3 separate regions of the Homo sapiens genome follow, and all the other regions are linked to region 2. Evidence: fine-mapped expression QTL. A gene starts in region 2. Each other region holds a variant in brackets. All regions are shown on one strand. Distances are from middle to middle.

Region 1 (8,181 bases), 790 kb after region 2:
GCACAAACTGCAGTGCTACAGAAGCAGGTAGCATTTATGGCCTTCTGTTTGTTTGCTGTCACTTTGGTACCTCAGCTCTGAGGTTTCCTTTGAGGAAGAGGGAGTGGAATGTATGGAAGTTTTGACAGAGAATTTAACCTCCTCTTCTTAGAGAGTTTAAGGGGCTACTCTCTAGAATGATCCCGTCTGACATTTAGATAACACTGGATTCTGTTCATCTCTTGCAGAGGAACTTACCAGCAGGGCCTCTGTCCAAATGCAGGAAACATGAACAGAATCCCCAGCTTGCTTTCTCCCACAGGACTCTGAGAAATAATCATCCTGTACATGCTCCCATTTGACGCCTTTTAATGGAACAAATTCACCATTGGAAATATGCAGGAAGTTGATTTCTTTTATATTTTGCCATCTTTAACCAATCCCTGGATAGGTTTTCAAAATCTCATTGAAGAGAAATATTTGGATGAGATTGGGGAAGTGGAACTCAGGTTTCTCTTGGTATTTATAATTGGGTAGAATCAAGGAAACCTAAATGGCCATAATGTTTTACCTTTACCCTTTGCTATGGTTTGAATGTGTCCCCCTCAAAATTCATGTGTTGGAAACTTAATTCCCAATGCAGGAGTGTTGGGAGTTGGGACCTGATAAGAGGTGATTGGCTCTGCTCTCATGACTAGATTAATGTCATTATCATGGAAGCAGGTCAGTTATTATGACAGTGGGTTGTTATAAAGTGAGTTCAGCCCCTGGTGCCTCCCTCTGCCTTGAGCACTGGTTTCACCTCTGCCTTCTGCTGTGGGATAACAAAGCATGAAGGCCTTCACCAGATGCTAGCACCAGCCTCTTGGACTTCCCAGCCTCTGGAACCATAAGCAAAATAAACTTCTATTCTTTATAAATTACCTAGTCTGTGGTATTCTGTTATAGCAGCAGAAAACAGACTAAGACACTCATGAAATATATATAACAAACCAGCGTTATGTGCACATATGCACAAATGCACTCATACTGGAGGATACAGTGAGTGTTTGAGTTTTTATATCTTGTAGTTGTTCATGCAAGATGGTTTATGGAGTTGAAATTTGTCATCCATATAAGTAATGTACTACTTGAAATTGGACAAAGTATGGAGAAGAGCCTTAAAAATCATTGAAAAAATGAGGTGAGCTTAAAAGAATTTAATATGTGTAGCTCAGGGAAGCTGCTGTTTAGGAGAAGTGGGAATGTGCCTCTGCTTCAGGACTGTAAGTCCCCAAAGAGTAATTTGCAGGCAGTAAGAAGGCACTACAGAGAAGGAAATGGGCAGAAAGGAATTGAAGTGTGTCTTAGTTTGCTCAGGCTTCCATAACAAAATATCACAGACTAGGTGGCTTAAACAACAGACATTTATCCTCTCATGTTCTGGAGGCTGGAAGTCCAAGATCAAGGTGCTGGCTGATTTGGTTCTGGTGAGGGTTCCAATCTTGGCTCACAGATGGCTGCTTTCTTGCTGTGTCCTCATATAGTCTCTTCTTTGTGAGCAAAGAAGAAAAAGAATGAAAAAAACAAAAAAAGAAAGAAAAAAGAAAAATAAGAAAAGGAAAAAGAAAGAAGAAGAGCAAGAAGAAGAGCTCTGTTATCTCTTCTTTTAAGGACCTGCCCTGATTTAATTGAGGTTAAATAACTGTATGACTTCATTTAACCTTAATTACCTCCTTGTAAACCCTATCTCCAAATACAGTCGTATTGGGGATTAGGGTTTCAACTTATGAATTTGGTGGAGAAACAATTAATTCCATAGTAGAGTGGAAGCTATAGGCAGTAGAATGACCTCCCAGGGAAACAACGGGGACAGTGATGCTATTCCTGAGGAATTAAAAGTGCATTGGGCTGGGCCAGTTCCACAATATGCTGTAGGAAGGGCTTCCTTCCCTCCTGGCCCTTTGGAGATGTGAGGAAGGGACTGACAGACTAAAAGCTTTAGGTTGCTTGGGAGATATCGTCTGATAAAAACTTTAATCTGGTAACCTTCCTCTCTCTTTCTCTCTCTACCTCTCACTCTCTCTCTGTCTGGCTCTCTTAATGGAATGCTAGTGTATTCTTATTAGGAAGATAGAACTTGGTTAGGAAGGAAGGAAGAAAAACGGCAGGCAGGCAGGCATTGGAGCCAGCAGGACTGGGAGATCACAACCACAATCTCCTGGGCAAAAGAAAGGGGAAATGAGAAGCAGTGCTTTCTCAGTCATGCGAGTAGTTACTGGCAGTTTGTTCTGGCCAGCAGAACTTCTGATATCATGGCTATTGAATAACTTATCATCAAAGTTTAATGTGAAACCAGGTGACTGATAACTAAATCTAGGAACAGAAATAGAATCTTCATTTTTTCTGCCTGAAGAAACTTTTTTCTGTCATTTGATTTAAAGGCCAAAGGCTATTCACCATACCACTGAGAATTATAAAACCTTTATGAAAACTCATCACAGTGTTGAATTGAATGTGTGATAGAGAGGAAAGCTGGGATAATTTCAATCCTTACCCGACCCATCTTAATAAGGTAAAGACTCCTGTGAAAGCTACCATACTCAACGCAGTGAGATCACAGCATAGCCGATTTTTTTTTTTTTTTTTTTTTTTTTTTTACCTCTTTCTAGGTTGAATGGAAATGAGGCAGTAGCCAAAGGGGATAGAAATAAACGTTCTTCTCTTACTGTGATTGTGTGGATCTGATGGGCTTTTCAAAATGGCACATGGGTCAGTGTTTCTTGGAGCCTGGACTAGCATACCCTCCCGGCATCTTAAGAGAAACAATCTCCAGGCTTGGTAGAAGTCCTTGGCTTTCTTGCTTAGAAATGTCAGAAGCCAATGAATATTTACATCCCCATCTCACCTTTGCTCTGATTTGCTAATCTGATCCTTATCAAATTAGGCCAAAAGGAAAGCAGTTAGAAACTTGAACTTCCATTGTTAGATAAGTACCAATCTCTACATTAAGAGCTATACAGATACTTGTAAATTTCTCACTGGGACACAGAATTGGTACATATCTCCAGGTGATCCTCTTCTCTCAGCATGTATATTCTTCTCTCATGTAGAAATCAGTTGCTTTGATGGTCAGAAAGAGACAAAGAGAAACAAATTCATCAGTCTGTATTATATCACAGTAGAATACAAGGCTAGAAAGTAGGTTCAACCCTGTTGGAACCCAGCCGGTCTGCTGCCCTCGCTGAGTTTCAGGGTCCCTGTCTGCATATCTGGAAAATAAGTTCATCTTTCCTAAAGACCCATCCAATCTTTGATTCTATAATCATAAGTAGGGTGATAAGATTTTATTTCCTACTTAGAGGGCCACCTGGAGAGTACATTCTGCTTTAATTTTCTGTTTTGGTGATGGGGAATTTGGAGCCATGCATGGTTATGAAAGGCCCAGAGATGGAATCTCATCTCTGATTCAAGGCTTTGGTTCCTGGCTTCCTGCTGTATTACTTCAATGAAACCAAACCTTTTAGGGCATATGTCTGCACATATTGGCCTACTCAAAATGCCATTCTATCCTGGGCGAGGTGGCTCACACCTGCAATTCCAGCACTCTGGGAGGCCAAGGTAGGAGGATGGCTTGAGGCCAAGAGTTTGAGACCAGTCTGGACAGTATAGTGAGATCCAATCTCTACAAAAAATAGAAAAATTAGCTGGGCTTGGTGGCATGTGCCTGTAGTCCCAGCTACTTGGGAGGCTGAGGTGAGAGAATCCCTTGAGCCCAAGAGGTTGAGGCTGTAGTGAGCTATGATCGTACCACTGTGCTCCAGCCTGGATGACAGAGCAAGACCCTGTTGCTTAAAAAAGAAAAAAGAAGCAAAATGCCTTTCCGAATGATCCCATTGACTGGGCAGAAATGTTACATTGTTAAAATATTTTGTGCCAGCCGCAGTGGCTCACGCCTGTAATCCCAACACTTTGGGAGGCTGAGGCGGGCGGCTCACCTGAGGTCAGGAGTTCGATACCAGCCTGGCCAACATGATGAAACCCTGTCTCTACTAAAAATACAAAAAAAATTAGCTGGGTGTGGTGGCGGGCGCCTGTAATCCCAGCTACTCGGGAGGCTGAAGCAGGAGTTTGAGACCAGTCTATGCAAAATGGCGAAACCCTGTCTCTACTAAAAATAAAAATTAGCCGGGCATGGTGGTGCATGCCTATAGTCCTAGCTACTTGGGAGGCTGAAGCAGGAGAATCGCTTGAACCCAGGAGGTGGAGGTTGCAGTGAGCCAAGATTGCACCATTGCACTCCAGCCTGGGCAACAAGAGTGAAACTCTGTCTCAAAAAAAAAAATTTTTTTTGCACAGTCTTCTCCATGAGATTTATACTCCTAGAGAGCAGAGATAACAACAAGCCTATAAGGCAAGGTAGTATTGTTTTATTTAGTGCCTGCCTATTACCAAAAGAGTTTGAAGCAGTTTATACTAAAAACATAAGAAGAATAATCTTAGAAACCCAGGAAGAAAATTTGGGCAGAGAAGTCTCTGGGAAGCATCCCAAAACTAATGGCTACTGAAAATAAACCTCTCTAAACCCTTCTCTGTCTTTCTCTCTCCTTTCTTTTTCTTTCTCCTTCCCTTCTTGATTTGTATTGTGTTTTCTCAATTAATTATTTTCTCTTTCCTATCCCTTCTTTTTTTCCTATTTGGTTTCAGACGAATTGAGCCAGGTTTCTGAAACCTGAAGCCAAAAGCACCTGTATTAGTCTGTTCCCACACTGCTATAAAGAACTACCTGAGACTGGGTAATTTAT[G/T]AAGAAAAGAGGTTTAATGAACTCACAGTTCCACAGGCTGGACAGGAAGCATGGCTGGGAAGGCCTCAGGAAGCTTACAATCATGGCAGAAGTTGAAGGAGAAGCAAGCACCTTCTTCACATGGCAGAGCAGGAGGAACAGAGAGCGAAGGGGGAAGCACTACACGCTTTTAAACCATCAGATCTCATGAGAACTCACTATCAAGAGAACAGCAAGGGGGAAATCCGCCCCCATGATCTAATCACCTCCCACCAGGTCCCTCCCCAATACTGGGAATTACAATTCAACTTGAGATTTGGGTGGGGACACAGAGCCAAATCATATCAGCATTCTAATGGATACATCAATCGATTTTCATGGCATGACATTAGGTATGAACTATTATCACCCCCATTTTACAGATGAAGAAACTGAGGCACAGAGGGGTTGAAGATGAAGACTTGCCTAAAATCAAATGGTAAATGGTGGAGTGAGGATTTTGATGAAGATAGTCTGAAGCCAGTAGCTACATCATTAATTATTATAATATATACTGCCAAGTATGAAATCAGATTTTAAACCAGGTCTGTTTAACTCAAACCCCATTGATCTTGACTATTAAACTATGCTCCCTGTGATGAAAATGATGATGACCATGACAATGACAATAACAGTAATAATTATAACTGACATTTATTGAGCTTTTATAGTGTGTCAGCATTAGTCTAAATATTTTTTAAAAATCAACTCATTTTCACAAAAACCCTATGAGTCAGGTACTACTATTATCCACATTTTAGAAATATTTATTTCTATTCATATTCACAAACAAGTATAGGTCATTTAAAAATTCTAGTTAAGACGTAATTCACATACCATAAAACTTACCTTGTTAATCATTTTAATTATTATTTGATTAAGAAATAATACACATCGCCATAAAATTTACAACTGTATACTTTGTACAATTCAGTGATTTTTGTATGTCCACTATGTTGCACAGCCATCACCACTGTCTAATTTTAGAACATTTTCATCACCCCTAAAAGAAACTCTGTATCCATTAGCAGTCACCCTCCACTCAGCCCTTGGCAACCACTAATCTACTTTCTGTCTCTATGGATTTATCTGTTCTGGACATTTCATATAAATGAAATCATACAATATGTGACCTTTTGTGTCCAGCTTTTTTCACACAGAACAGAGAAAAACAGCTACCATTTATTGGTTGCCATGACTACTATGTCCTACGCACTGTTATTGAGAGCTTTGTGTGCCTTATCTTTAATCCTCACAATAACCCTGTGGCAGAGTAGCACTATCATCTTCATGTTAATGAGGAGACCGAGGCACAGAGCTGTTCAGTAACTTGCATAAAGCGCAGCAGCGCATACATGGAAGAGTTAAAACGCAAATCCAGGTCTGTCTGTATCCAAATCCCATACCCTTTACATTCCATCTTTCTGCCTTAGCGTCACATGGATGTGGGCCAGTAATGTGGTGGCATTGCAGCCAGGGCAAAGGAGTTGAGCCAACCACGTGGTGCTGAGAAGCATAGCCCTAAGATCTCCTGGACCTGGTGTCTTTTAGTGGGGTGGGGGCTGGGGATGCCCTATCTCAAGCCTGTGCTCCTGACCCCAGTAAATTTGCCTGCTGAGGTCCTGCTTGCTTACTTCTTCCTGCAGCTTCTTGGCGGCCCCAGCTGCAGTCTTTGGTTTTACTCAATTTGGATGTGTAGGTTACAGAGTTTGTATGGTAGAGTGTCTGTATTTCTTCATCTGGCTTTGGTTACACGTGGAAACATGACAAAGCAAGTCAAGCTTTCTATGAAGAGAAGGACAAAAATTCACTGAACTTATTCAAGTATTCCCCTGAAGTCTGCAGCTCAGGCACATTTCCATCTGGAGCCCATTGAATAGCACCAGCTCCCCTTCTCTGGATGGGCATCTGAGGATGAACTTCTGGTCTTAAGTGATCCTCCACCTCAGCCTCCCAAAGTGCTGGGATTGCAGGTGTGAGACATTGCACTTGGCCCAAAAGCAGATGTTTATACTAATAGGTATGGACAATGAAGAATTAAGTGGTGATTTCCATGCTCTTTATAAGATGGCAGAGAAATGAATACTACTTTTCTAAAAATAGTGCCTGCCAAAAGAGTTTGTTTCAATAATTTGGAAAATGCAGGTCCAAATGGCTCATTCTTTCAGATTGCTGAACTGATTTGCTGTTATTGCGGCTAGAGGCCTCTAAGAGTCACTGTTGAGCTCTCAGAGGAATGTAGAAGCTGACAGGAAAGAGAGGGTCTAGAAGGAAACCTTATCTTATATAACCAGAAAATATTTATCAAATGTGACGCATTAATCTTGATACAATATTATTAACCAAACTATAAAAGTTATTCAGATTTCATCAGTTTTTCCAGGATCCATTCAGGATTCCCCATGGTATTTATCATCTTAGTCACATCATGTCTCCAGTCTGTGACAGCTCCTCGGTCTTTTCTTGTTTTCCATGACCTTGACATTTTAGTGGTCAGGTGTTTTGTAGGCAGTCCCTCAATTTGAGTTTGTATAGTGGTCTGTCATGATTAGAATGAAATAGAAATTTCTCATAAGACTGAAATAGGTTTAAGTTAGTGGAGCCCTCTTGGGGCTAAATTTAAGAAAGGGAGAAGTTAATTTTCTTTGCCCTGCTGCACCTCCTGCATCTTGCCCTCCATTCCCATCTCCAGTTCACTTCTCTCTGCCCTCAGTGGCCAAGTCTTAATAAACACTTATGCTTGCTCTGTGTCCAAACCAATGATAAGCGCTTGGGGCACTGCAGATGGAAGGTGTCTGCCTCCATTCCTCTTTCTCTTCTTTCTTTCCATTTCTTTTCTTTCTTTCTTTTCCTTTCTTTCTTTTTCTTTCTCTCTCTCCTGTTTTTCTCTCTCCTTCTGTCTCTCTGTTTCTCTCTCTTTCCTTCTCTCTCTTTCTCTCTCCTCCTCTCTCTGTCTCTCTCTCTCTCTTTCTCTCTGTCTCAACAGGTGTCCTCAAACTCTAGGAATGAATTCCAATATCCTACATTGTGACCAGAAGGAGGCCCCACAGTACTCCTTCTGAAAGGGTTTGAGCAGAGGGCAGTCAGTCCCGCAGCTGTAATTCATCATTACACCACTCATTGTGTGAAACACAATAATGTCCCATTAGCAAAGTATTAAATCTGAAATGTTTGTACTGAATTCTGGAGAAACTTCCTGAGGTTACCTTCCCAACTGGGTGGTGTGATGTTTCATCTCAGTGGTTCTGATTTTTCTTACTTTCGGTGGAAGGGGGAATAGTAACTTAGTTTTCTGGAGTTTCCAGAGGGATGGGAAATATTATGAAATCAACAACGTTGCAGCTCAGAACATGATCCTTTCAATTTTCACCAGTGGCTAAAATTTATTATCTTTTTCTGA
Region 2 (8,181 bases):
GGAAAAGTGCCCACCTACCTTTCAGTCCCCCACTCCATCCCATCTAATCCGGACTAGCTCTGTGACCCTGGCCAGGCACTCAAACCTTCTGAGTCCCTCAGTTTCTTGCTCTGTAAAATGCTGGGTGGCCAAGTGAGAAATGGGCCTGGCCCTCAACCCCTACCATCTGCTGCCCCTGTCCAAGCTACATACCAAGCACCTGAGTCAGCTAGAAATCTATGAAAACCAAGCAGAGGGGAGCATGAGGAAGTCACAGGCAGTGAACACAGCCTCCTGGGGAGAGAGTCCCAGCACCACAGGCCAGCCGAAGGGCTTCAAGTCCCGGGAGGAGTGTTTTGTTGGTTTTGGCTGCCTCTGTCTTACCTGCTCTAGGTAGGACCCCTTTTCATTCCCCTATAGGGGAATCCTTGAAAACTGTCCACATATGACAAAACAGGGAGGAGCCTTGAAACCCTCCTGCCTTTCTCCATGCCACCCACCTCCCACAGAGACAGAGCAGAGCCAACCTTACTAACTTGTTCACAGAGAGCTCCCCTGAAGATCAGGGAGATTCTGTAACTGACTCGCCCAAGATCACACTGCATACTCTTGTTCTGACCGCAGAACCAATCAGAACTCCTCCAGAGAAACACAGCCTCTGCAGTCTTCAGCCTCTAAGCCTTTTCTCAGGCTGTGCCCTAGGATGGCTGTTCCTTATTTCGGTATTTTCACTCATTTTAAGCATTCAGGACTCTGCTCAAAAGTCTTTCCAACTTGGCCATTGCTGGCTCTGTGATGTGTCATCTCAGAGCGTGTCCTCAACTGTGAGACATGGGCAGCCATCCACCATCACAGAGTTGTTGTGAGGACTTGAATAGAGTAAAAGCCATCAAAATACTCAGTTCCAGCCCACTGTCAGCGCTCAGTATTTGTTTGTCAGTCTGATCCTGGACCTCCAACCAGAATTGGGGTTTCTACGCTTTAGAAACCCCAAATCAACTTTTTTTTGTACCTCTATGAAGAAACTGAGCAAACCCAATTCATTCAGTCATTCCTTCAACAGATACTGAGCACCAACTGTATACCCAATCCCAGTGATGGAAACTTAGAGAAGGATCACAGCATCTGCCCTAGACAGTATCTTTGGAAAGCTCATGAGTTCGATGATTCCATTTGATACTTTTATCCCAACTCTGTTTCTTCTGCAGGGATCGACAAAAAAATAATAATAATAAAAATGCTGAAAACATCTTGTTCTGGGAAACATCAAGGAATCACAAAGGCTCAGAAGTAGTGCCCCACACAGCAGACAATTCTAGAAGGTTGGGAGACATGGGTCCCCAAAACAGAAAAAGGTGCTAGAAAGCCAACACCTATGTATCCTGCACCAGAAACATTCAGAGAACTTTCACAACTATGATGTCATTGAATCCTCTCTAGATGATGAAGGGATCAGCATTTCCCATTTTACAGAGGGGAAAACTGAGGCCATGAGAAAACGACATCAACAGAAAGAGAGCAGCTAAGACAATCCTTGAACCCAAGTCTCCTGACCTAGAAAATCAAGGCATTGTCAGAGCTGGGAGGGATCTGAAGAATTAAGTCCAGCTCCCTCAGTTTGTACAGATGAGCAAACTGAAGCTCAAAAAGAGAAAGAGGCCAGGCGCGGTGGCTCACACCTGTAATCCCGGCACTTTGGGCGGCCAAGGCGGGCGGATCACCTGAGGTCAGGAGTTTGAGACCAGCCTGGCCAACGCGGTGAAACCCCGTCTCTACTAAAAATACAAAAATTAGCTGGGCATGGTGGCGTGTACCTGTAATCCCAGCTACTTGGGAGTCTGAGGCTGGAGAATCACTTGAACCCAGGAAGCAGAGGTTGTAGTGAGCTGAGATCTTGCCACTGTACTCCAGCCTGGGCGACAGAGTAAGACTCCATTTAAAAAGAAAGAAAGAAAGAGATCATTCCTTTAAACTTCCTAATTTTACAGAAAGGGTGAGTGTAATCGGGCAGCCCCCAACGCAGAGTCCACACTCACCCAAGCGTGGTCATGGTGACAATGGTATACCAGAAGGCCGCAGGGATGCTTGTAAAGTTGGTCTTGTTTGTGCCCTTCTCAGCATAAAACATGACAGTGGCAAAGATGATGATGGCCATGGTTAGGGAAAAGAGGAGAAAGCCCAGCTCAGAGGCACAGCTCTTGAGTGTGTAGCCCAGAATCCTCAAGCCCTGTGAGTGCCTGGAGAACTTGAAGATGCGAAACACCCGGAACACACGCAGGGTGACAAAGGCGCCAGAGACATCGTCGTTCTTGGGCACCAAAAGCCCAATGTAGTAGGGCAGGATGGCCACCACGTCGATGAGGCTCATGACACTCCGCAGGAAGCGGCAACGGCTGGGGGCGGCAAACAGCCGCAGGAGGTATTCACCTGTGAATATGAGTACACAGGCTGTGTCCATGCAGAAAAAGGCCTGTGGGAAGCGTTCGCCACAGGGCTGCTCCCTTGAGGACCTGCGTGCAGAGCCGCGGCATGGGATGGTCTCCACCACATTGGCGATGACCGACACGGCGATGAAGAAGCCGGTCACATAGTAGAAAACGAGGGCTGCGGTGCTCGTGTGTGGATTCTCGAAGGCCCGCCAGAGCCGCTGCCGCAGGGAGCTGCCTGCTGGCAGGGCTGGGCCGTCCCCGGCCTGCTCTGCCTCCTCATCCTCTGCCAGGCGCTCGGCATTCTCCTTCTTTCGGTCCCGATACTCTTCAAGGCAGCAGTCACCGACTAGCTCGGGAACCAGGCCGTAGAAAGCCAGCTCTTCGTCGAAGGCCTGGATGCACTCCTGCCGTGGGCAATGCAGCCGCCCCGTTCGGTAGAAGTTCAGCACATGGCGGAACATGTCAGGGTCGCGATCGAAGAAGTACTCGCCTGAGTCAGCATCGTAGAAGAATTCCTTCTCCGAGCTGCCCAGCAAGGTGTCTGGGTAGCGGTCCAGCGTATTCTTCCAAGTCTCAAAGCGCCGTCCGCTCACGTTCACCACCAGAACCTCATCTCCTCGAGATGCCTTCACCCCCGGTGCCGGGGGCAGGGGTTGCTGGGCCAGGGGCAGCCAGCCCACTGCTGCTGCCCGAGCAAAAGGCAGCCACGTGGCCAGGCCTGCCGCCATCGTGCCACTCCCCAAGCCCAGGGAGACTTAGTGAGGGTGGCGTTTAGGAGAATGTGGCTGTCTCCAGGATGGTGGGGGCTTGGAGACACCTTGAGCCACCCAAACAAGGAAACTGGGGGTGTCTAGAGAGGCCAAGAGGAACCAGGAGGAAGAACTAAAGAGATGGGAAGGAGTCTGGGGGACATTTACAGAACCTAGGAGGGGCCTGGGCAATGTTCTGAGGGACTGAGAAGGGCCTTGGGGACATGGAGAAGAGCAGAAAAGGGGTGTGGGGATGGGGCCAAGAAGGAGCTGAGGGAGGGTTTAGAGAGACTGAGATGATTCTAAAGGAGTCAGCCTGTGCCTGAGAGGTGTCTGGGGGCGTCTAGAGGGGCCAAGAAACACGTGGGGAATTCTCTGCACTCTCAAGAGTCTCAGGGAAGGCAGAAGAGCCTGGAATTCCTTTGCAGTGGTGGAGAGGAGACTGGGGCATCCAGAGGGGTAGAAATGGGACCAGAGGTGCTTGAAAGAGACTGAGAGTGCCTGGAAGTGGGGGTTCTAGAGGGGCTGAGACAGGTGAGGAGGGTTGTCCACACCCTCAAGACTTCTAGGGGAAGCATAAGAGGGTTAGACCCCCCTCATGGATCTGGAAAGGGAGCTGGTGCATCTTGAGGGGTGGCTGTGGATCCAGGAGGTTGTAAAGAGGCTGAAAGGTGTCTTGGGACTGCCTAGAGTTGCCAAGAATAGCCCGGGGGGGTGTCTATACTCTACAGGAGTTCTGGGGAAGAAAGGAGAGGCCAGAGCCTCCTAGTAGGGCTGGAGAGGGGAAGGGGTTATCTAAAGGGGTAGACAGGGGGCTGGGTTATTTTTTGAGAGGCTGAGAGTTATCTGGGGGAGGTGGGTATCTAGACGGGCCAACAAAGCCTGGTCGACACTCTCAGGAGTTCTACAGGGAGGAAAAAGGGGCCTGGGGAATTCCAAGGGCCGGGACTCAAATGTTAGGAAGTTGGGCACAATCCCAGAGCACCCAGGGGATCTATGAAGACTAAATAAGAGGAAGGGGGTTAACCCCAAAATGGGATTAAGAGGGGGGTGGGGTGTTGAAAGGGAGTTGGGTGTGTCTCCAGGGAGGGGGGCTCCTGGGCTTTGCAGGAAGCTGGCAGGAGACGCCGGGAGAAGGCTGGGTCCCACCGTTGGGGGCAGGTCTGGGGAAACCACACCCCGAGGGGCTGGCGGTGTGTACTGGGCAGTGGCAGTAGCAGCAGCGGCAGCAGGAGGAAGAGAAGCAACCACAGCCAGGCATAGGAGAGAAGGTGGCATAGGCAGGGGGAGGGTGCGGGGTCCCTGGAAGGAGGCCTGGGAAGGGCAAGGTCCAGTGGGACCCCTGGGGACTATCCCAGGATGGGTTAGGGCGTGGGGGCTGGACCAGGGAAGGATGAGGACAGCGCTAGTGGTGGTCCCCCTCCCCCTCTCTCTCGGGGCGTCCTCACCTGTGTCCCCGCTGCAGGAGCAGCAACAGCGGTGGGGCTGGGGGTACCAAACACCCGAGCTCCTGGCCCCCTCTGCAGAGCTGCCTGAGTTCTCCTCCTCCTCTGGCTCTCTCTCCCCGCCCCTCTGAGCTTGCCGGGAGATGGAGAGGCAGGGAGGGGCCTCGTGGCTCCCTGAGCCCCCTCCCCTAGGACAGCCAGAGAGGGACCCTGGGGAGACTCCGCCTCCTACAAAGCTGGTTGGGCCTCAGTCGCGTCATCTGGAAAATGGGGGTGGCAGGGAACTTCGCCAATTCTCTCCACCTCCTTCCTGGACTCCCCTCTCTTCCTGCCCAGCTCCTACCCGCTCTGCCCCCAGGGGCCCCCACCCCCACTCGCCTGAATCAGCAGCACTTAGCAGATCCGATCGATGGGAAGGCGTCTGTTAATGGCCCCAGAGCGGAGTGCCACAGGGAATGATGCAGCGCTGTCCCCTCCCTGCCCCCCAGACTGTGGAAAGGCAGGAGAGCCAGGAGTCGGGGGTAATTGCTGGGGAGTGTTTCTCTAGATGGCCAAGCTTCCGAAGCCGCCCCCTTGAGGGGCGCAGCATGGGTTACAGCCCCAGCTCTAAGACTTCGGCTGTGGGATTGGAGCACGGGACTTCCTGTTTTTAGATATGAAATGAGGGTAAAGGGAATGTAGAGGGGGACAATCCAGGTCCCACCCCCCTACCATCTCAGGCAGGCCCCACTCCGAGGGGGTAGTCTCTCTTATCTGTCCATATCCAGTGGCCTCAAATCACACCTCCTCCGCTAGAGGGCTCTGCTTCTGGATGGCAGGAGCACTGATTATGGAATGCCTCTGGCTGGCTATGGGTGGGTTCAAACCCCAGCTTTGCCACTGACTTGCTGCATCCTTGAGCAAGTGACTTGCATTGTTTCCTCAGTTGTCAGATGGAGAGACTTATCCCAACTTGATAGCGTCATTTGGAGCATTACATGATGTGAAAGGTGATAGCACTGGACACAGCTCACACCAGGGATGCTTAATCTTAATTAAAGGAGTGTGATGACAGGGGCACTGTAATGCAGGGCCAGGCCTAGCCTTTCACCCAAGATTTACCCACCCGTGTAAACTTCCAATTGCCCATTTGGCACACTCCTGATTTGTCCATTTCTACATCCATTCCTCCACCTACCCATCCACCCATTCTCCCACCCACACAATCAATTCCTCTATCCATCCCTCCACCCACCCGTCCACTTAGTCGTTAATCTACCCACCCACTCATTCATCCATTTGTAAGTTCACCCCATTTGGCTGTTTGCCAATCTATCTGTATGTATCCATCCTCTGCCCATCTCTTCCCACCCGGAACACATGCAGGGTGACATCCTCTGCCCATCTCTGTCCATACATAGCTCCACTTGTCATTTCTTCTCCCACTCTTTACCCTTCCCATTCATTAGCTCATCTACCCATCCATCCATTCCCCCAACCATTGGTCCATTTACTCCTAACCTGTCCATAAACCCATCCATCCACCTGTCTACCTAAATCATCCACCCATTTGTCCATAGACCTATTATCCATCTGTCCATTTACATCTCTACTATCCATCCTCTATCCACCTACCAATCTATCTACCCATTTATTCATCTAACCACCTATCCATCCATCCATTTATTTCCCAATCTATCCATCATCAGTCCATGCAACCGTTCACTTATACATCCATCGGTCCATCCAACCACTTATCCATCCTCCCATCTGTCTACTCATCTATACCCACAATCCCATACATGTCTACCCATGTACATATCTGCAGGTATTTCAGCTCCACTCAGTTTGAGGGGCTGGTCAGCAGTAAATGGAGACAGGCTGGATGAGGGTGGGGAAAAGAGAGTAACGTTGCAGCCAGAGACCTCTCTCCCTATTCCAATGGTGTAAACCTCCCCGCCCCCAGCATATTCCTCCTGGTTGAAAAGAACGAGACGAGACAGTCAGTGGGTGGGCCCGTCTGGCCAGATGGTATTTTGGCTGCATAGCCTTTACACACACACACACACACGTGTTGCTAGAACGCTGAACATGGACCACACACCCACCCAGCATCCCCAATCCCAAATGCAGAGTAGCCAGGCTCCAGACATAAATTAAAAAATAAAATAAAATAAAATAAAAAGAGTTGGTCTCTGGGAAGGAGAGCTCATGCAGAGATGAAGACAGAAGCCCTTGGGAGCCAGGACCAAGAAGAAGGAGAAATCCCTGCCCCTTCCCTCAGGATCCCCACTCCCTGGTGGCCTCTGCCCTAAGACAGGATCATTAACACTAACCATCAGGCCTCTAGCCCCTTTAATGTCCAGTCTCCCAAGCTATTTGATTTTGGCTCCAGCCCTCATTTTTCCACCACAGCCCAAGGGAATAGCATCCTAGGGGGTAGGAAGGGGAGGAGGTGGGTGCAGCCTGCAGGTCTTTAGCTGGTTTCTCCTGGCTCTAGGTCTGGGTCAGGAGGCCCCACGCACTCCTTGCTGAGCCGCACAATTTCCTGGGACAGAACTTCCATATCCTAAGAAACAAATGAACCATCAGGGGCCAGAGAAGGGGACAGGCTGCTCCCTTGCCAAACGTAGGGTATCATCTGTGATTTCCCTCACACCCTTTCATTAATCAATGCTCAGCTGTGTCTGGCCTGGGATGAGAAGGTACTTGGAGAAGCTCACAGCACCCCCAACAGTGGGCAGGGCTCAGAAAAGTCATGAGGATGGGTGGGGAGCTACAGATAATGGGAGTGGGATGCCTCCTGTGGCATGGTGCTGCTGCAGGATACACCACCACTCTGGCCACCTGCTCTTCTAAGTGTGAGCTTGCTTCTCAAAGGCAGGAGCTGGGTCTGACCCCTTTCTAACTCTCAGAGATGGGGAAAGTCCTTGGGTGGCAGTTTGGGCAGAAAGATGTGTGTGTGGACCCATGGGCATGGGGGATCTATGGTAGACAAATTGGTGGACGAATGAATTGTCCAGAGGACAGATGGAGATCAACAGGTGGGCAGGCAGGTAACTGGGTGGGTGAAAGGTAACACAAGGGGCAATTGATGAGTAGATAAGAGAATGATATGTCAAGAAATGGGTGGCAGGACATGGGGTAGACAATGAGATAAGTAAGTAGTAGATTGGGTAGATGGACAGATGGGCAAATGGTTGGGTGAATGTGTAGATAAATGGATGAGCGGGTACATGGAAGGAATGAATGGATAATAAGTTGATGAGAGGGTGGAAGATGAGAGCATGATGGAGTAGTTGATGAGTGGGTAGGAGGATAGCTGGGAGGACAGGCTGGGTGGGTGGGCAAGGGGACTGGCAGATGACCCAGGGGCTATGTGGCTGGGTAGGCAGGTGGCTGGGTGAACAGATGGGTAGGCTGGCAGGCCACACTTGCCTTGTGCAAGTGCATATTCTTGGTGAGCTGCTCCTCCAGCATGTTCTGCAGCTTCTTGTTCATCTCCCGAAGGTTCTCGTCACCTGGCTTCACTAGGTCTCTCAGGACGCTGCCCAGCCCGCTGCGGTCTGTGTGGCCTGCTGCCACAGACACATCTGCAAG
Region 3 (8,181 bases), 520 kb before region 2:
AAAAATGTAGTCAGAGGTTGGAGGGCCTTGGACTGTTTTCTTCGGGTTTTTTTTGTTTGTTTGTTTTTTGTTTTGAGATGGAGTTTTGCTCTTGTTGCCCAGGCTGGAGTGCAGTGGCACAATCTCAGCTCACTGCAACCTCTGCCTCCCGGTTTCAAGCAATTCTCCTGCCTCAGCCTCCCAAGTAGCTGGGATTACAGGCATGCACCACTGTGCCGGGCTAATTTTGTATTTTTAGTAGAGATGGGGTTTCTCCATGTTGGCCAGGCTGGTCTCGAACTCCCAACCTCAGGTGATCCACCAGCCTTGGCCTCCCAAATTGCTGGGATTACAGGCGTGAGCCACCACACCCGGTCTGGATTTTTTTTTTTTAGTTGCAACAGATGTAGCAGAAGCCACTGAAGAATGAGCTCCACGACTAAGTACAGCAAACCTCTGCAAAGGTGCTAGTTTGGAAAACATTGTGTCCTTCAAGTAGAAAAACCACAGATCGACTATTTTTTTCTTCCCATGGTTCAGACTAGAATACAGATTTTTAACCCAAGATCCAAGGATGATCTTCAGAGAGTCCAAAATCTCCTGACAGTGCCTGAGGACCACCCGGGACACACACTGTCTACAAAGCACAGCCATGTTCTGTATCTTGATTACGGTGTTGGTTACAGGAGTCTACACATGGGATAAAAAGGCATACACACTATTGCTCCAATGTCAATTTCCTGATTTTGATATTGTACTATAGTATTTTTACACTACTATAATATAGAGGAAACTCAGTAAAGGGTATATGGGACATATCTGTACTATTTTTGCAATTTCCCATAAATCTATATTATTCCCAAGTAAAAAGGGAAAAACATACAATTTTTTTTGAGACAGGGTCTCGCCCTGTCATCCAGGCTGGAGTGCAGTGGGGCAATTATAGCTCACTGCAGCCTCAAACTCCTGGGCTCAAGCAATCCTCCTGCCTCAGCCTCCCAAGTAGCTAGGACTACAGGCACATGCCACCATACCCACCTATTTTTTTTTTTTTAGAGATGGGGTCTTACTATATTGCCCAAGCTAAAAATACATTTCTTAATGAAAGATCAGGATGAGAAACAACAGGCTTATCTGAACACCTGCACAATAACCAAATACAACTTCTAGAAGTGAAAATGGTGATTTAAATAATTAATAAACTTATTAAACTGCAGATTAGACACAAACGAAGAAATAATTAGCGAACGAAAATATAGCTCTGAGGAAAACACACCATTAGAGATAAAGAAACAGAAAATAGGCCAGGCATGGTGGCTCAAGCCTGTAATCCCAGCACTTTGGGAGGCTGAGGCGGGTGGATCACCTGAGGTCAGGCATTCGAGACCAGCCTGACCAACATGGTGAAACCCCATCTCTACTAAAAATACAAAACTTAGCCAGGCATGGTGATGCATGCCTGTAATCCCAGTTACTCAGGAGGCTGAGGCACGAGAATTGTTTGAACCTGGGAGGTGGAGGTTGCAGTGAGCCGAGATTGTGTCATTGCACTCCAGCCTGGACAAGAGTGAAACTCCGTGTCAAAAAAAAAAAAAACAAAAAAGAAATGGAAAATATAAAGATATGGAGGATAGAATGAAAAGAGCTCACATATATTGAACACAAATTCTAGAAAGGGAGAATAGAAAGATTTATGGAGAACAATGTTCAAAGGAATAATGGCTGAGAATTTTCCAGCTTTGGTAAAAAGCATCAATGCTCCTTATGTGAGCTCACCCAGACCTATTACTTTATTATTTAAGGAATTATTCACTAAAACACATGCTGCTTTAATGTAGTTTAATTATAATCCAGTGTTCATAAAGATGATGTCATTTGGAAAAATATTGATTGGGAGCATTTGGGGATCATAAATTTGAAGTGGTACTAAAATACTAGGCCACATTAGAACATGTGGAAAAAGAAAGAAAAAGCAACAAAAATAAAGTTCTAGGCCACAACAACACAAACACTGAAAGAGAAGGAGATTAGAGTTAAAGTAATCAAAGGACATGTGAAAATGGAAACTAAAGTTATCATCAAATTTAAACCTTTTAATGTCAAGTAATGATGTTTAAAATGTTTAATGTTGCTAACACAAAGTAAATGGTGGAATAGAGAACTCCAAAAATCTATGCCTCTATAAAAATCAGTGAAAAAACTGGCAAAAACTGTCAGGATCAACTTTTTCAGAACTTTGAAAACTAACCGAAAGCTTGTAACAAGCAGAGGAATGTTTAATCAAGAAAAACCAGCTGAGTGGCTCACGCCTGTAATCCAGCACTTCGGGAGGCCAAGGCAGGCAGATCACCTGAGGTCAGGAGTTCGAGACCAGCCTGGCCAACATGGTGAAACCCCGTCTCTACTAAAAATACAAAAATTAGCCAGGCGTGGTGGCACGTGCCTGTAATCTCAGCTACTCAGGAGGCTGAGACACGAGAATTGCTTGAACCTGGGAAGTGGAGGTTGCAGTGAGCTGAGATGGCACCACTGCACTCCAGCCTGGGCAACAGAGCAAGACTGTCAAAAAAGAAAAAGGAAGAAAAAGAAGGAAGGAAGGAAGGAAGGAAGGAAGGAAGGAAGGAAGGAAGGAAGGAAGGAAGGAAAGAAGGAAGGAAGGAAGGAAAGAAGGAAGGAAGGAAGAAAGAAAGGAAGGAAGGAAGGAGAAAAACCAGCTGAATCTCCATAAGAACAGTAAGCTTTGTGGTATTTTAACTTACCCTTGTCCCATCTCCTGCTCCCAGCTTGGTGGTAGCCCTGAAGATAATGATCTGCATTCCCAGTACAGGTACCAGTACCAGAGAGAAAAGAATGGACCTTATTCACAAAGAATTACAGTTGTTTGTTTTGACTTGTCTGGTGGTTCCCTGGAAGAACCCACTTGAAAGGCTTGTCTTCATTTGACCTCACTCAAACTGATGCTACAACCTGGGGTAGTGAATAGCAGTTGAGGCAAACAATACATCAACCAGCAAGCTTAAAAGGAAAGGCTGGAGGCCAGGCATGGTGGCTCATGCCTGTAATCCCAGCACTTTGGGAGGCTGAGGCAGGTGGATCACGAGGTCAAGGGATCGAGACCATCCTGGCCAACATGGTCTCTACTAGACACCCCATCTCTACTAAAAATACAAAAATTAGCTAGGTGTGGTGGTGTGCACCTGTAATCTTAGCTACTCAGGAGGCTGAGGCAGGAGAATTGCTTGAATCCAGGAGGCAGAGGTTGCAGTGAGCCGAGATCGCGTCACTGCACTCCAGCCTGGCAACAGAGCAAGACTCTATCTCAAAAAAAAAAAAAAAAAGAAGAAGAAGAAGAAGAAGGAAAGGCTGGAAAATGGGGCTTGAATAACTCCAACACATGCCTGGGAATCTAGAAGGCCACACACATACGCCCTGGGCTGCAGCTAGGCGAATGCCCACAGAAGAACTAAGTAGGCTTTAATCTCTCACCTCTGCAGACCTCGAGGCTCTGAGCAAGCAGGAAGAGAAAGATAAGGCAACGTTGTAAACTGCCAGGCTGAGTGCAGAAGGTATGTCCCAACACATACACAAATCCCCTTGGCAAAGACTGGGAGACATACTGGTTCCAGGCATTTAAAGAAATTTCTGTTCAATCATTAGTGGCCACTAAGCTAACCAAGAGACTTCAGTGGCCACAGAGGACAAGGAATAGAGACTACAGAATTTGTTCAGGAAAAAAACTAGACAAACTTGTGTTTTGAGACAGGGTCTTGCTCTGTCTCTCAGGCTGGAGTACAGTGGCACTAACACGGCTCACTGCAGCCTTGATCTCCCAGGCTCAAGCAATCCTCCAGCATCAGCCTCTGAGTAGCTGGGACTATAGGCATGCGCCACCACACCAAGCTAATTTAATTTATTTATTTATTTATTTATTTTTTGAGATGGAGTCTCACTCTGTCGCCCAGGCTGGAGTGCAGTGGTGCGATCTCAGCTCACTGCAAGCTCCGCCTCCCGGGTTCACACCATTCTCCTGTCTCAGCCTCCCGAGTAGCTGGGACTGCAGGGGCCCGCCACCACGCCTGGCTAATTTTTTTGTATTTTTAGTAGAGACGGGGTTTCACCGTGTTAGCCAGGATGGTCTCAATCTCCTGACCTCACGATCCACCTGCCTCGGCCTCCCAAAGTGCTGGGATTACAGGCGTGAGCCACCGCGCTCGGCCAATTTTTTTTTCTTTTTTAAGAGACGGGGTCTCACTATGTTGCCCGAGCTGGTCTCAAACTCCTAGGCTCAAATGATCCTCCTGCCTTGGCCTCCCAAAGTGCTTGGATTACAGGCATGAGCCACCGAGCTCAGCCTAAACAAACATTGAAAACAAACAAACAAAACAGCAACAAGAAACCCCAGGGAAGGGACAGAATCTGGTTTCCAGAGTTGCCACATTATATTATTTGAAATGTCCAGTTTTCAATAAAAAATTATGACACCTGCAAAGAAAGAAGAAAATACGACCCATCCACAGAATAAAGAAAAAAGACCACCTATAGAAACCATCCCTGAGAAAGCCCAGATGTTGGGTTTTCCTTTTTTCTTAATGTATTTTATTTTATTTATTTATTTATTTTGAGACAGAGTTTTGCTCTGTCGCCCCGGCTGGGGTGCAGTGGTGCAATCTCGGCTCACTGCAACCTCTGCCTCCCAGACTCAAGCAATTCTACTGCCTCAGCCTCCCAAGTAGTTGGGACTACAGGCACCCACTACCACACCTGGCTACTTTTTGTATTTTTAGTAGAGACAGGGTTTCACCATATTGGCCAGGCTGGTCTTGAACTCCTGACCTCAAGTGATCCACCTGCCT[T/C]GTCCTCCCAAAGTGCTGGGATTACAGGTGTGAGCCACCACGCCCAGCCAGATGCTGGGTTTTCTAATAAAAAGACTTTAAATGAGCTATTTAAAATACGTCCAAAAACCTCAAAGAAACTATGTCTAAAGAACTAAAGTATAGAAACAATATCTCACCAAATAGAGAGTATCAATACAGACATAGAAATATAAAAAATGAACCAAATAGAAATTTCTGGAGTTTAAAAGTGTAATAATCAAAATGAAAAATTCATCTTCTGCTGATGCTAGGAGTAGGGACATTGCCCTCATCTCTTTTTGGGGTTCTTTCTGTTAAATATGAAGACTTGCTTTTTTTTCTTTTTGAGACAAGGTCTCACTCTGTTGCCCAGGCTGGAGTGAGTGGTGCAATCACAGCTCACTGCAGCCCTGAACTCCTAGGTTCAAACAACTCTCCCACCTCAGCCTCCCTGAGTAGCTGGGACTGCAGGTGCAAACCACCATGCCCGACTAATTAAAAAAAAAAAATTGGGGCTGGGCGCGGTGGCTCACACCTGTAATCTCAGCACTTTGGGAGGCCAAGGCAGGCGGATCACCTGAGGTCAGGAGTTTGAAACCAGCCTGGCCAACATGGTGAAACCCTGTCTCTACTAAAAATACAAAAATTAGCTGGGCACGGTGGCGCATGCCTGTAGTCCCAGCTACTCAGGAGGCTGAAACAGGAAAATCGCTTGAACCCGGGAGGCAGAGGTTGCAGTGTGCCAAAATCGTGCCATTGCACTCCAGCCTGAGCAACAAAGCAAGACTCTGTCTCTAAATAAATAGATAAATAAATAAATAAATAATAAATAAATAAATAAATATTGTGTAGAGACAGGATCTCACTATGTTGCCCAGGTTGGTCTCAAATTCCTGGCCTCAAGTCATCCTCCTTAGCCTCCCAAAGTGCCCAGATTATAGGCATGAGTCAAGACTTGCAGTTTTAAGGCCAGGTGCTGGAATTTCAGGTTACCATTATTATCAAAAAGAATGGTTTGTTGAGCTTAAGTTTAGTGGCAGTAAAGGGAGTGGACAAAGCTATATAAGAGCAATGTTTTGTATAGTATTGAAATTAAGTTGGTATCAATCTGAACTAGATTGCTAAAAATTAAGATGTTATTTTTAATCCCTAGTATGGTCTGAATGTGTCCCCTCCAAAACTCAGGTGTTGTCAATGTGACAGTATTAAGAGATAGGGTCTTTAAGAAGTGACTAGGCCATGAGGGGTTCTCCCTAATGAGATTAGGTGTCCTTATAAATGAGATGGAGGGAGTTGCTTCTCTCATGTCCTTCTGCCTTCTGCCATATGAGAATGCAGCAAAAAGCGCTGACCAGATGCTGGTGCCTTGATCTTGGACTTTCCAGCCTCCAGAACTGTGAGAAAATAAATGTCTGTTCTATACAAATTACCCAGTCTGAGGTATTCTATCATAGCAGCACCAAAAGACTACTAAAATCCCCTAAGTAGGACTTGCATCCCAAGGAAGTGTAAGACTTCTGCACTGAAAACTACAAAACATTGCTGAAGGAAATTAAAGACCTAAATAAATGGAAAGATAGCCCATTTTTCATGGATCGGAAGATTTAATGAAGTACTGATACATGCTGTGGCATGCATAAACCTTGAAAATATGCTAAGTGAAAGAAGCCAGACACAAAAGACCACAGTGTATGATTCCACTTATATGAATGCCAAGAATAGGCAAATCCGTAGGGACAGAAAGTAGATTCATGGTTCCCAAAGGCTGGGCGGAGTGGGGAGTTACTATTAATGGGTATGAGGTTTCTGGTGGGGGGGGGTTGTTGTTGTTGTTGTTTGTTTTTTTTGTTTTTTTTTTTTGTTTTTGAAACAAGGTCTCACTCTGTTGCCCAGGCTGGAGTGCAATGGTCCAATCCAGCTCACTGCAGCCTTGAACTCCTTAGTTCAAGCAATTCTCCCACCCCAGCCTCCCTGAGTAGCTGAGACTGCAGGTGCACACCACCATGCCCAGCTAATTAAAAAAAAAACTTAGGGACAGGATCTCATTATGTTGCCCAGGTTGGTCTCAAATTCCTGGCCTCAAGTCATCCTCTTGCCTTGGCCTCCCAAAGTGCTGGGATTACAAGCATGAGTCATCGTGCCCAGCCAAGACTTGCAGTTTGAAGGCCAGGTGCTGGAATTTCAGGCTACCGTTATTCTCAAAAAGAATGGCTTGTTGAGCTTAAGTTTAGTGGCAGTAAGGGATAAAGAACAGTGAAACAAGGAGCATATAGTATTAATCAACTACAGACAACTGCCCTATTTGTAAATAGAAGCAGGGAAATAATATATATGTGTAGTAGCTTATAAATGCGTAAAAATTATCTGGGAGGATAAGCAAATGTCTCTCAAACATCTAAAAGCTTCCTTCAGGCTGGGTGCGGTGCTTCATGCCTATAATCTCAGCAATTTGGGAGGCCGAGATGGGTGGATCACTTGAGCCCAGGAATTCGAGACCAGCTTGGGCAACATGGTGAGACCCCGTCTCTACAAAAAAATACAAAAAAGGCCGGGCGCAGTGGCTCACACCTGTAATCCTAGCACTTTGGGAGGCTGAGGCAGGCGGATCACGAGGTCGGGAGGTGGATCACGAGGTCGGGAGATCGAGACCATCCTGACTAACATGGTGAAACCCCGTTTCTACTAAAAATACAAAAAATTAGCCAGGTGTGGTGGCACACATCTGTAGTCCCAGCTACTCGGGAGGCTGAGGCAAGAGAATCACTTGAACCCGGGGAACAGAGGTTGCACTGATCCGAGATCGTGCCATTGCACTCCAGCCTGGGAGACAAGAGCAAGACTTCATCTAAAAAATAAAATAAAATAAAATAAAATAAAATAAAATAAGCCGGGTGTGGTGGCATATGCCTGTGGTCCCAGCTACTTGGGAGGCTGAGGTAAGAGAATCACTTGAACCCGGGAAGTTGAGGTTGCAGTGAGCTGTGATCTCACTACTGTACTCCAGGCTGGATGACAGTGAAACCCTGCCAAAAAAAAAAAAAAAAAACCTTATTTCATAAATACGGCTCATGCCTGTAATCCGAGCACTTTGGGAGGCCAAGGTGGGAGGATCACTTGAGCCCAAGAGTTTGAGACCAGCCTAGGCAACATAGAGAGATCTCATTTCTACTGAAAATTTTAAAAATTATCCAGGCATAGTGGCGCATGCCTGTAGTCCCAGCTACTCAGAAGGCTGAGGCAGGAGGATAGCTTGAGCCTGGGAGGCTAAAGCTTCAGTGAGCCGTGATGGCACCACTGCACTCCAGCCTGGATGACAGAGCAAGACCCTGTCTCAAAAACAGTTAAAAAT

Direction of the effects. Positions count from the first base shown, and alleles are read on the strand shown. Sizes are in standard deviations (SD) of each study's normalised expression.
As copies of T replace G in region 1, the expression in whole blood of the gene that starts at base 4,709 in region 2 goes down (small effect, 0.24 SD a copy in GTEx).
In carriers of allele C in region 3, the expression in prefrontal cortex of the gene that starts at base 4,709 in region 2 tends to be higher than with T alone (large effect, 0.86 SD a copy in GTEx).

Evidence for each region.
Region 1: its variant is fine-mapped to the expression of KCND1 in whole blood (GTEx, PIP 0.97).
Region 3: its variant is fine-mapped to the expression of KCND1 in prefrontal cortex (GTEx, PIP above 0.99).

Annotation. Positions count from the first base shown.
Region 1 is chrX:49,754,685-49,762,865 of GRCh38, forward strand. No RefSeq gene overlaps it. Among named protein-coding and RNA genes, the nearest start is that of PAGE1, 63 kb to the left of the region's middle. The variant G/T (reference allele first, on the strand shown) is at 4,764.
Region 2 is chrX:48,967,136-48,975,316 of GRCh38, forward strand. It overlaps KCND1 (potassium voltage-gated channel subfamily D member 1), which reads right to left and starts at 4,709. Exons shown (of 6, transcript NM_004979.6): 1 at 2,016-4,709. The coding sequence starts at 3,136. It overlaps GRIPAP1 (GRIP1 associated protein 1), which reads right to left. Exons shown (of 26, transcript NM_020137.5): 25 at 8,020-8,174; 26 at 6,588-7,150. The coding sequence ends at 7,058.
Region 3 is chrX:48,448,418-48,456,598 of GRCh38, forward strand. It overlaps the pseudogene LOC791096. Among named protein-coding and RNA genes, the nearest start is that of SLC38A5, 18 kb to the right of the region's middle. The variant T/C (reference allele first, on the strand shown) is at 4,833.